Homo sapiens: one gene and its partners. The protein of the gene in region 3 purifies or fractionates together with the protein of the main gene of each other region. This does not show direct contact. Each region holds a gene or a part of one and is shown on either strand. Other genes may lie near its edges. The genes, in order: MVD, LTA4H and GALK2.

Region 1 (3,655 bases), on a different chromosome or scaffold from region 3:
TCTCCAATGACTCCTGGGGAGGTGAAAGTCCCCACTCCTTCAGGGAGGGAAAGGGGGCGGGGCACTGTTCCAGCCTGGAGTGTGGGAGGGATCTGTTTCTTTTTTTCTTTTCTTTTTTTTTTTTTTTGAGAAAGGGTCTCCCTCTGTTGCCAGGCTGGAGTAAGGCTGGAGTGCAGTGGTGCCATCTCGGCTCAGTGCAACCTCCGCCTCCCAGGTTCAAGCGATTTTCCCGCCTCAGCCTCCTGAGTAGCTGGGATAACAGGCGTGCGTCACTACAGCCTGGCTAATTTTTGTATTTTTAGTAGAGATGGGGTTTCACCATATTGGTCAGGTTGGTCTCAAACTCCCGACCTCAGGTGATCTGCCCACCTCGACCTCCCAAAGTGCTGGGATTACAGGCGTGAGCCACCGCGCCCGGCCAGGAGTCTGTTTCTGTGTTGCTAGGCTGCCCTTCCTGGTCCTGCTAGGGAGGGCTGGCTTTGGTTGGCAGTTCCAGCTTCTGCAGGGCTAGGTCTAGGGCAAGCAGAAAAGAAAGCCCCGGGCTCCCCCTGCACTGTCCCACAGCCGCCCTCTGTCACCCGTGAGAGTCTCACCTGTGATGTCCAGGGTCTCAGTTGTCCCCAGTGGGAGGAAGCGGGAGAAGTCCCCTGGCCCACCTTCCTGAAAGCAGAGGTTCGCCCGGCCTGTCAGGGCAGCGGCGTCCGCCTGCAAGGGGGGCCGCTCAGTGCTGTGCGTGAAAGAGCCTCGCGAGCTGCAGGGCGTGGTTCTCTGCCAGGTGTCCGCGTTTATCACCCCTGGAACTGTCCGCCATCCTCAGAGACCTCCCCTCGCACAAAACCGAGCAGATGGTGTGCTTAGCGAAGCCGCCGTGGAATAAGACTTCAGCTGAAGCACCACGCAGCGCTCCCAGGGCAAACGTTTCCTTTCGGGCTTTCTGGAAGTTTGATTTCACGTGCTGTCCCATGGCCGTGCTGGGCAGAAAGGGGTTTATCCTGGATGTTCCTGGGGCATATGAGCAGTGAGATGTGAGGAGTTCTCAGAGCTGGGCTCCTTTTGTTTGGGAAGGTGGAGGGGAGGCAGGCCGCGGTGGGAGCGATCCGCACCTGGGCACTCACGGATGCTGGAGTAGAAGCGATGAAGGAATGGGGAGCGGGGACGGAGGTTGGCTGGCCTCCAGCTCTGCTCTGGGAGCCTGAGCTCAGTGGGGTGGGAGCAGTTCTTGCAGGCCGGGGTCTGGCAGGAGGAGGGGCACACAGGTTGTGCGGTGAGAGACGGGACTGAGGCGGATGGGGGCCGTGGGTGGGGGGTGGGGGCACCTGTGGGGAACACTGGGGGAGGGTGGGCCGGGAAGCCCACCGGCCTGGCCCTGGCTGTTCATTACAGGGGGCAAGCGCGATGAAGAGCTGGTTCTGCCCATCAACTCCTCCCTGAGCGTCACTCTGCACCAGGACCAGGTATGTGTGGACTGACGACTAAACACCACAGTGCCATTTCCAGAACATTTGTAGAACAGTTGGTACCCGTTGGGTATGGTGGCTCACATCTGCAATCCCAGCACTTGGGGAGAGTCTCTTGAGCCCAGGCATTGGAGACCACAGTGAACCATGATCGCACCACTGCACTCCAGCCTGGGTGACAGAGTGAGACCCTGTCTCTGAAACAAAAAAAAAATTGGTACTTTTTTACCTAAAGGCTAGGATGAGATGGCCTAGCGACGACTCCCAGCCAGCACGCAGTGTCTGTTCCATCTCCCAGTATTAGGAGAGCTGAGCACAGCACACATGTGCCCCCAGGTCTCGTCACACATGCGCACACCGTGCCCCAGGGGCTCCCCTGGGAGTCCCCGTCTCTTTATTCAGGATAAGGCCTGGTTGCTCCACAAGGTGTGGCCCACGCTTTCATCCCCCACGGGCTTCCCCACTGCCCAGCTGAGACTGGCCTTTCCCCCCCTGCCCTCAGCAGGGCTGACCTTGCTCGAGTGGGCAGCCATGAGGCTCTCTCAGTAGAAAGGGGTACCTGGCTGGCATCGGTCCTCAATGCTGGCCTCTGAGGTGGCCCTGGGTTTCCTTTTCAGTTAAAAACCACCACAACAGCCGTCATCAGCAAGGACTTCACCGAGGACCGGATTTGGCTGAATGGCCGGGAGGAGGATGTGGGGCAGCCGCGGCTGCAGGCCTGCCTGCGGGAGAGTGAGCTGGGGTCCCCATAAGCCCATCCCTCCCTGTTGTCAGCAGGGTCCGAGCATCCAGAAAGTGCTTCTGCCTCTGTGCCCCTCCTGAGGCAGCAGGCGGGGTGGCTGGGAACCAGACATGCCCGCTGGGCCGCCAGCTCCAGGGCAGTGGCCCACCTCAATGACCAGCTGGGCTTGGGTCAGTCTGGGGTTTTCCCGGGTAAGAAACTCTCCACGAGGAGTCTGGCAGGCAGAGGCCTGGTGTTCAGCTGTGACCCCGGGCAGGTGGGCAGGAGCAGGGCGGGCAGGGTGCTGACGGCTGGGCCACACGCTGTCTCATTGTCTCTGCAGTCCGCTGCCTGGCCCGGAAGCGGAGGAACTCACGGGATGGGGACCCGCTGCCCTCCAGCCTCAGCTGCAAGGTGCACGTGGCATCGGTGAACAACTTCCCCACGGCTGCGGGCCTGGCCTCCTCAGCGGCGGGCTATGCCTGCCTAGGTGGGTGCCCACAGAGACCCGCAGGGGTTCTGGGCTGTGGGCGCAGGAGCCACTTCATGCTCTTCCCGGGTCAGGGAGCCCACTGCTGGGCGTGGCTAAAAGAGCATCCCCTCACCCCAGGCCTCCCTGGCCTCTCTGGAGTTGTTCAGTCTCTTCCCAGAGCACATCTGAACATTTTCATCTTCCAGTTGCAGCTGGCGTGGGGCTCTCGCCTGTAATCCCAGTACTTAAGAGGCTGATGGGGGAGAAGCACTGTAGGCCAGGAGTTCAAGACCAGCCTGGGCAACATAGTGAGACCCCCCCCCATCTCTACAAAAAATAAAAAAATCTTCCCGTTGCTGTATGTGGAGCCCCTCTAGATTGTCAGTGATAGAAACCACTTCAAACTGGCTCAGCCCTAAAATAGCGATGATTTTGTGGCTCACGTAACTGAGGATTCCAATGGGCACAGCTGGTTGCAGGCCCCGCTGGACCCAGCTCTCTGCTGGCCCCAGGCCACTTGCTGGCAGCTTCCCACCCACTGTCAGAGCCTGTCCCCCCGGTGGTGGTCTCACACCATCTTCACCCCTCAACTCCAGGGGTGACGCTTCCTGGCCCACCTGGGCTCCTGCGCCTTCCCTGAACCACCCTCGGTGACCAGGGTGGGTGACCAGACCTGGAGGTGGGGTTGCCCTGCTGGAGCCCTGTGGGAGGAGGGGAGAAGGTGGCTCCCGTGCTGGGTGGGCAGGGGGCGCGTCTTGTGGAGTCCAGCTCTGTCCTGGCATCGGTCCCTGCCCCACACAGCCTTAAAATTCCTTCCCACCCTCAAAGCCCAGCTTGGGTGTCCTCGGGGGCCTTTCTCCCGCCTTCCATGGGGCTTCCTGCTCTGCCGCAGGTACCTTTTGTTGCCCTTGTCGCGGGCCGCAAGCTCTGCAGGCCGTGAACAGAGAGTGTCCGAGAGTGGAACTAGCGGAGGTGGGGGACAGACGGCTGGGCCGGTGAATGCTG
Region 2 (2,322 bases), on a different chromosome or scaffold from region 3:
TGGCATGATTTTTTTTTCCAGAATTTGGACAAAATTCATAAAGACCTTGACTGAGATATTCTTGTATCTTGCTGTCAAGATACAACTTATCCCCCTCTCACTAAGCATTCCTTTATTATGTCAAGCAACCTACCCTTGACCTCTATGCAACATTTGAACACAAAAGAGTTAGCTTTATCTGCTTATTTCTCCTTACATTTAACTTCAGACTCTCTTTCTTGTCTATACCTACCCACCAATTATCTTCTAGTTACCTTTAAAAATCTTTGTGTATATAAGGCTATCTTTGATTTATTTCTATTTTATCAGTATCTAACTCTATTTGATCCAAAATAGTAATCCATATATAATGCTTCTAAAAAGAGGAATGAAATTATTTCACATTTTAAATATTTATAAGTGTGAATCCCTATTCCAAAATTATACTGATAAACTTTAACAAATTAAAAAATATTGTCATATAGATTACGTTTAAATATTTGACAGTTTTCTTCCTGTTTCTTAGATGAATTCAAAGTACGGTCTGAGTGGGTTCTTACTTGAATAAGGGCCGGGTAAACTTCATTCTTCCTTGTTCAGTTGCCATCTTTAGCGCCAAAGGAATTGCGTCCTCCCACTTGGATTGAATGCAGAGCCGCAGCCATCTAAAAGGAGGATTTGGGGGGAGCATGGAGTAGAAAATGAGGAAGGGGCAGGATATGACAGGTATATCTTAATATTACTTCTGTAGTGATATGAATAACCCCACTATAGTTATACTGTACACCACTTTATGGTATGTCTTGATTCTGAGACTCTCAAATCCTTATATATACAATTTAATAATTGGTGAAGAGAAAGAAGAGGAGCTGGTTCTTGAAAAAGATCATATATTTTTAAAGGTCTGGATCAGGTAGGTGCTCACATACCTTATAAATCCAATTTCTGAAGGAATTAAACTTTGGTTTAAGCCTCACATTACAAATTTGAATTAAGAAAGATCAGGTAGGTGCTCACATACCTTATACATGCAATTTCTGAAGGAATTAAACTTTGGTTTAAGCCTCACATTACAAATTTGAATTAAGAAAGATTAACATATAATAGAATAAAATATTTCTAACTATTCCCATTTCAAAGTAGATTTAGTTGGTTGTGGAGAAAGCCTATTTACCACGGAATCCTTCATTCTAATTTTTTTTTTTTCTTTTAAGGCAAGAGAGGTTTAGAGCAAAGTCTAACAAAAAGATTAATACTACCAGATTACATATTGCAACTATTCCTTAAATACCACTATAAGTATTTATATAGAAGCAGTCAGTTTGACAAGGAATTCTCAAGACTCAAGTATGTCTCATACTCTGCATTCCCTTTCTCCATCTTTCAAAGGAGTTTAGTTTTCTGCTTTCTTCCACAGAGACAAGTTAAAATGATGTACCTGAATCGTATTTCAGAATTGTTAATGGCATTGAAGTTGTACACCTCTTGCATTCGCTTTATGTGCCCCAATGGAAGAGGTGCCTAAGAGCAAAATAAAGAAGTATACCGTATCATTTCAACAGGATTCCTTGGAAGAAAGGAGCTGGAGAGAAATGCATAGCCAGATTAAAATCCTAAATATTTTATAATATAGAAATAAGTCAGATAAAAATAAAAGAAACAAATTGCACACTAAGTAAATTCTGTGCAAACTTATTCCAGATGAGGATATTCTACTGGGAGCACAGGGATAATTTACTTTGTGAAGTATTCAGCATTAAATGAGAATTGCTCTTCTTAGACTTTTTAGCATGTATAAATATTATCTTTCAGACTTTTCCTAGAGTTTTTCTAGTTATTCTCTATAACTTATATATCTTAAATGCAATTCCATTCTCCAGATGAAATCATAGTTCCTTAATTTTTGCCTGATTCCCCCTAGCTTTATCTTTGTATATTTCCTCTGAAATCCCTGTTAAATTATCTGCATACCTACATAATAGCAGTTCTTAAATGTTTGTATTATAGATCTCTTTGGGAATCTGATGAATAATGTGGACTCTTTCCCTAGGGGGAAAATACACTTACTACATGAATACAAACTTCTGTATACAATTTCAGGGGGTTTATAAGCATCCTATCCCTACCTTAACTCACCCTAAAAGGGAGGACAAGTTTGGGTGAAGGAAAGAAAAAAGATGAGTTCAGTTTGGACAAGCAGAGAGTTTGTAGTGCCTGTGAGAGGCAGAGGTGCCTCTAGGTAGATGATAACTCTCCCCTCCAACCACGACCTCCTTACCTTACAGGACTCCACACTCACTAACCAATCTCTGCTTTCATGAACTACTAATCCTGTCGCTAATA
Region 3 (3,655 bases):
CATAAACATAATCAGAAATGACAAAGGTGATATCACCACTGACCTCAGAGAAATACAAAAAACCCTCAGACACTATTGTGGACACCTCTGTGCACTCAAACTAGAAAACCTAAAAGAAATGAATAAACTCCAGGAACTGAACCAGGAAGAAACTGAATTCCTGAACAGACAAATAAAAAGTTCTAAAATTGAATCAATAATAAAAAATCTACCAACCAGAAAAAGCCCTGGAGCAGATGGATTCACAGCCAAATTCTACCAAACATATAAAGAAGACCTGTTAGCAATCCTACTGGAATTATTCCAAAAATTGAAGAAGAGGGACACCTGCCTAACTCATTCTATAAGGCCAGCATGATTCCAATACCAAAACCTGGCAAAGACACAACAAAAAAAGAAAACTTCAGGCCAATATCCCTGATGAATATAGATGCAAAACTATTCAGCAAAAACTAGGAAATTGAATCCAGCAGTACATCACAAAGCTAGTCCACCACTATCAAGCAGCCTTCATTCCTTGGATGCAAAGGTTAGTTCAACATAGGCAAATCAATAGGTGTGATTCACAACATAAACAGAATTAAACAAAAACCATATGATCATCTCAATAGAAATAAAGACTTTCAATAAAATTCAAGAACTCCTTATGTTAAAAACTACCAACAAACTGGGCATCAAAGGAACATACCTCAAAATAATAAGAGCCATCTATAACAAACCCACAGTCAACATCATACTAAACAGGCAAAAGCTAGAGGCATTCCCCTGAGAACCAGAACAAAACAAGGATTCCCATTCTCACCTATTCAACATAGTATTGGAGGTCCTAGCCACAGCAATCAGGCAAGAGAAAGAAATAAAATGCATCCAAGTAGGAAAATAGGAAGTCAAACTATCTCTCTACACTGACAATATGATACTATACCTAGAAAACCCCATAGTCTCTGCCCAAAGGCTCGTGGAACTGACAAATAACTTCAGTAAAGTTTCAGGATACAAAATCCATGTACAAAAATCAGTAGTATTTTTATACACCAGTAATGTCCAAGCTAAGAGCCAAATCAAAAACACAATACCATTCACAATAGCCACAAAAAGAATGAAATACTTAGGAATATAGTTAACCAAGGAGGTGAAAGATCTCTACAATAAGAATTACAAAACATGGCTGAAAGAAATCAGAGACAACACAAACAAATGGGAAAACTTTCCATGCTCATGGGTTTGAAGAATCAATATTATCAAAATGGCCATACTGCCCAAGGCAATTTACAGATTCAATGCTTTTCCTATCAAACTACCAATGTCATTTCTCACAGAATTAGAAAAAAAAAAATTCAAAAATTCAAATAAAAAATGGGCCCAAATAGCCAAAGCAATCCTAAGGAAAAAGAACAGAGCTGGAGCCATTATACCACCCAACTTTAAACTATACTACAAGGCTACAGTAACCAAAACAGCATAAAACAACAGACACATAGACTGATGCAACAGAATAGAAAACTCAGAAATAAATCCATACACCTACAGCCATCTGATCTTTGACGAAGTCAACAAAAATAACCAATGGAGAAATGACTCCCTATTCAATAAATGGTACTGGGATAGGTGGCTATTCATACACAGAAAATGGAAACTGGACCCCTTCCTTTTACCATATACAAAAATCAACTCAAGGTAGATTAAAAACTTAAATGTGTGACTTAAAACTATAAAAATTCTAGAAAAAACAGCCAGTATATGCAGTTCTGAACATAGAACTTGACAAAGATTTCATGATGAAATCTCTAAAAGCAATTGCAACAAAAACAAAAATTGACAAGTGAGACATAAACTAAAGAGCTTCTGTACAGCAAAAGAAACTGTCAACAGAGTAAACAGACAACCTACAGAGATAGGATAAAATTTTTGCAAACTATGCATCTTACAAATGTCTAATATCCAGAATCTATGAAAAAGGTAAACAAATCAACAAGCAAGAAACAAATAACTCCATTAAAAAATGGGCAAAGGACATGGACAGATACTTCTCAAAAAAAGACATACACATGGCCAACAAGCATATAAAAAATGCTCAATATCTAATCATTACAGAAATGCATATTAAAACCATAATGAGATATCATCTCACACCAGTCAGAATGGCTATTACTAAAAAGTCATAAAACAACAGATGTTGCCAAGTTTGCCAAGAAAAGGGAATGTTTATACACTGCTAGTGAGAACGTAAATTAATTCAGCCATTGTGGAAAACAGTTTGGAGATTTCTCAAAGAACTTAAAACAGAACTACCATTCAACTCAGCAATCCCATTACTGGGTATATACCCAAATGAATATAAATCATTCTACCAAAAAGACACATGTGGACAGGTGCAGTGGCTCACGCCTGTAATCCCAACACTTTGAGAGGCCAAGGCGGGTGAATCACGAGGTCAGGAGTTCGAGACCAGCCTGGCCAACATGGTGAAACCCTGTCTCTACTAAAAATACAAAAAATTAGCTGGGCGTAGTGGCAGGTGCCTATAACCCCAGCTACTCGGGAGGCTGTGGCAGGAGAATCTCTTGAACCAGGGAGGCAGAGGTTTCAGTGAGCCAAGATCGCATCACTGCACTCCAGCCTAGGCTACAGAGTGAAACTCTGTCTTAAAAAAAAAAAAAGAAAAAGACACATGCACTTATATATTCACTGCAGCACTATTCACAATAGCAAAGATATGGAATCAAACTAGATGCCCAACAGTTGACTGGATAAAGAAAACGTGGTGCAAATACACTGTGGAATACTATGCTGCCATAAAAAGGAATGAAATAATGTCCTGTGTAGCAACATGGATGCAGCTGAGGGACATTATCCTAAACAAATTAATGCAGGAACAGAAAACAAAATACCATATGTTCTCAATTGTAAGTGGGAGGTAAACACTGAGTACATATGGTGACAAAGAAAGGAAAAGTACACACCAGGGCCTACTTGAGGATGGCCAGTGGTAGGAGAGTGAGAGTCAAAACACTACCCTTTGGATACTATGCTCACTACCTGGGTGATAAAATCATGTGTACACCAAACCCCAGAAACATGCAATTTACACATGTAAGAAACCTAGTGTGTATGCCCTGAACCTAAAATTAAGTTGAAAAAGAAAATAAATAAAAGTTCTGGAAAAAAAGAAATAAGATGAAGCATGCCTCATTTTTACAAAAACCATGAAGTCATTATTCTTCAGGAGGAAAAGCTTATGAATATATACATAGAGAGGCAGAGAGAGAGCAATACATGTTGTTTGATAAGCAAATTGCTCTTTGTATTTTCCAAAGCATTCTGGGAAATTTACTTATTCAAAAAAAATCTAAAAGAAAGGAAGACAGGCAGATGCAGAAAGAAAGGAAGATGGATACAGAGCAAGAGAATAGGTTGTGGATTAAGAAGCATAAGCAGAAGATAAGAATTATATTAAGCTTTTAAGACAGGTAGAAACTGCATTTCAGAAAAGGGAGAAAATTCATTTATAAAAGCACAGTGGTATTTAGGATTAAAAGCCCAGAGGGAAGACCAAGCTTCCAATTAGTAAGTGGAATGGTCCAACCAAGGTAACACTGTCCACACAGGCAAGTATGGGCTCAAAAGGGACACAGGACAGAACTTAGTTAAGACA

What was found.
Region 1: the proteins of GALK2 (region 3) and MVD fractionate together in Homo sapiens (co-fractionation; one large-scale study listed by BioGRID). This does not show direct contact.
Region 2: the proteins of GALK2 (region 3) and LTA4H fractionate together in Homo sapiens (co-fractionation; one large-scale study listed by BioGRID). This does not show direct contact.

What each region holds. Positions count from the first base shown.
Region 1 is NC_000016.10:88,656,449-88,660,103, reverse strand, and holds part of MVD (diphosphomevalonate decarboxylase), read left to right. Parts: intron 1-1,383; coding exon 1,384-1,454; intron 1,455-2,074; coding exon 2,075-2,189; intron 2,190-2,521; coding exon 2,522-2,668; intron 2,669-2,856; coding exon of another isoform or gene 2,857-2,958; intron 2,959-3,655. UniProt on the Homo sapiens protein: Catalyzes the ATP dependent decarboxylation of (R)-5-diphosphomevalonate to form isopentenyl diphosphate (IPP).
Region 2 is NC_000012.12:96,002,421-96,004,742, forward strand, and holds part of LTA4H (leukotriene A-4 hydrolase), read right to left. Parts: intron 1,562-2,322; coding exon of another isoform or gene 1,535-1,561; exon of another isoform or gene 1,501-1,534; coding exon 1,418-1,500; exon of another isoform or gene 1,187-1,417; intron 706-1,186; exon of another isoform or gene 645-705; coding exon 540-644; intron 1-539. UniProt on the Homo sapiens protein: Bifunctional zinc metalloenzyme that comprises both epoxide hydrolase (EH) and aminopeptidase activities. Acts as an epoxide hydrolase to catalyze the conversion of LTA4 to the pro-inflammatory mediator leukotriene B4 (LTB4).
Region 3 is NC_000015.10:49,295,610-49,299,264, reverse strand, and holds part of GALK2 (N-acetylgalactosamine kinase), read right to left. Parts: intron 1-3,655. UniProt on the Homo sapiens protein: Acts on GalNAc. Also acts as a galactokinase when galactose is present at high concentrations. May be involved in a salvage pathway for the reutilization of free GalNAc derived from the degradation of complex carbohydrates.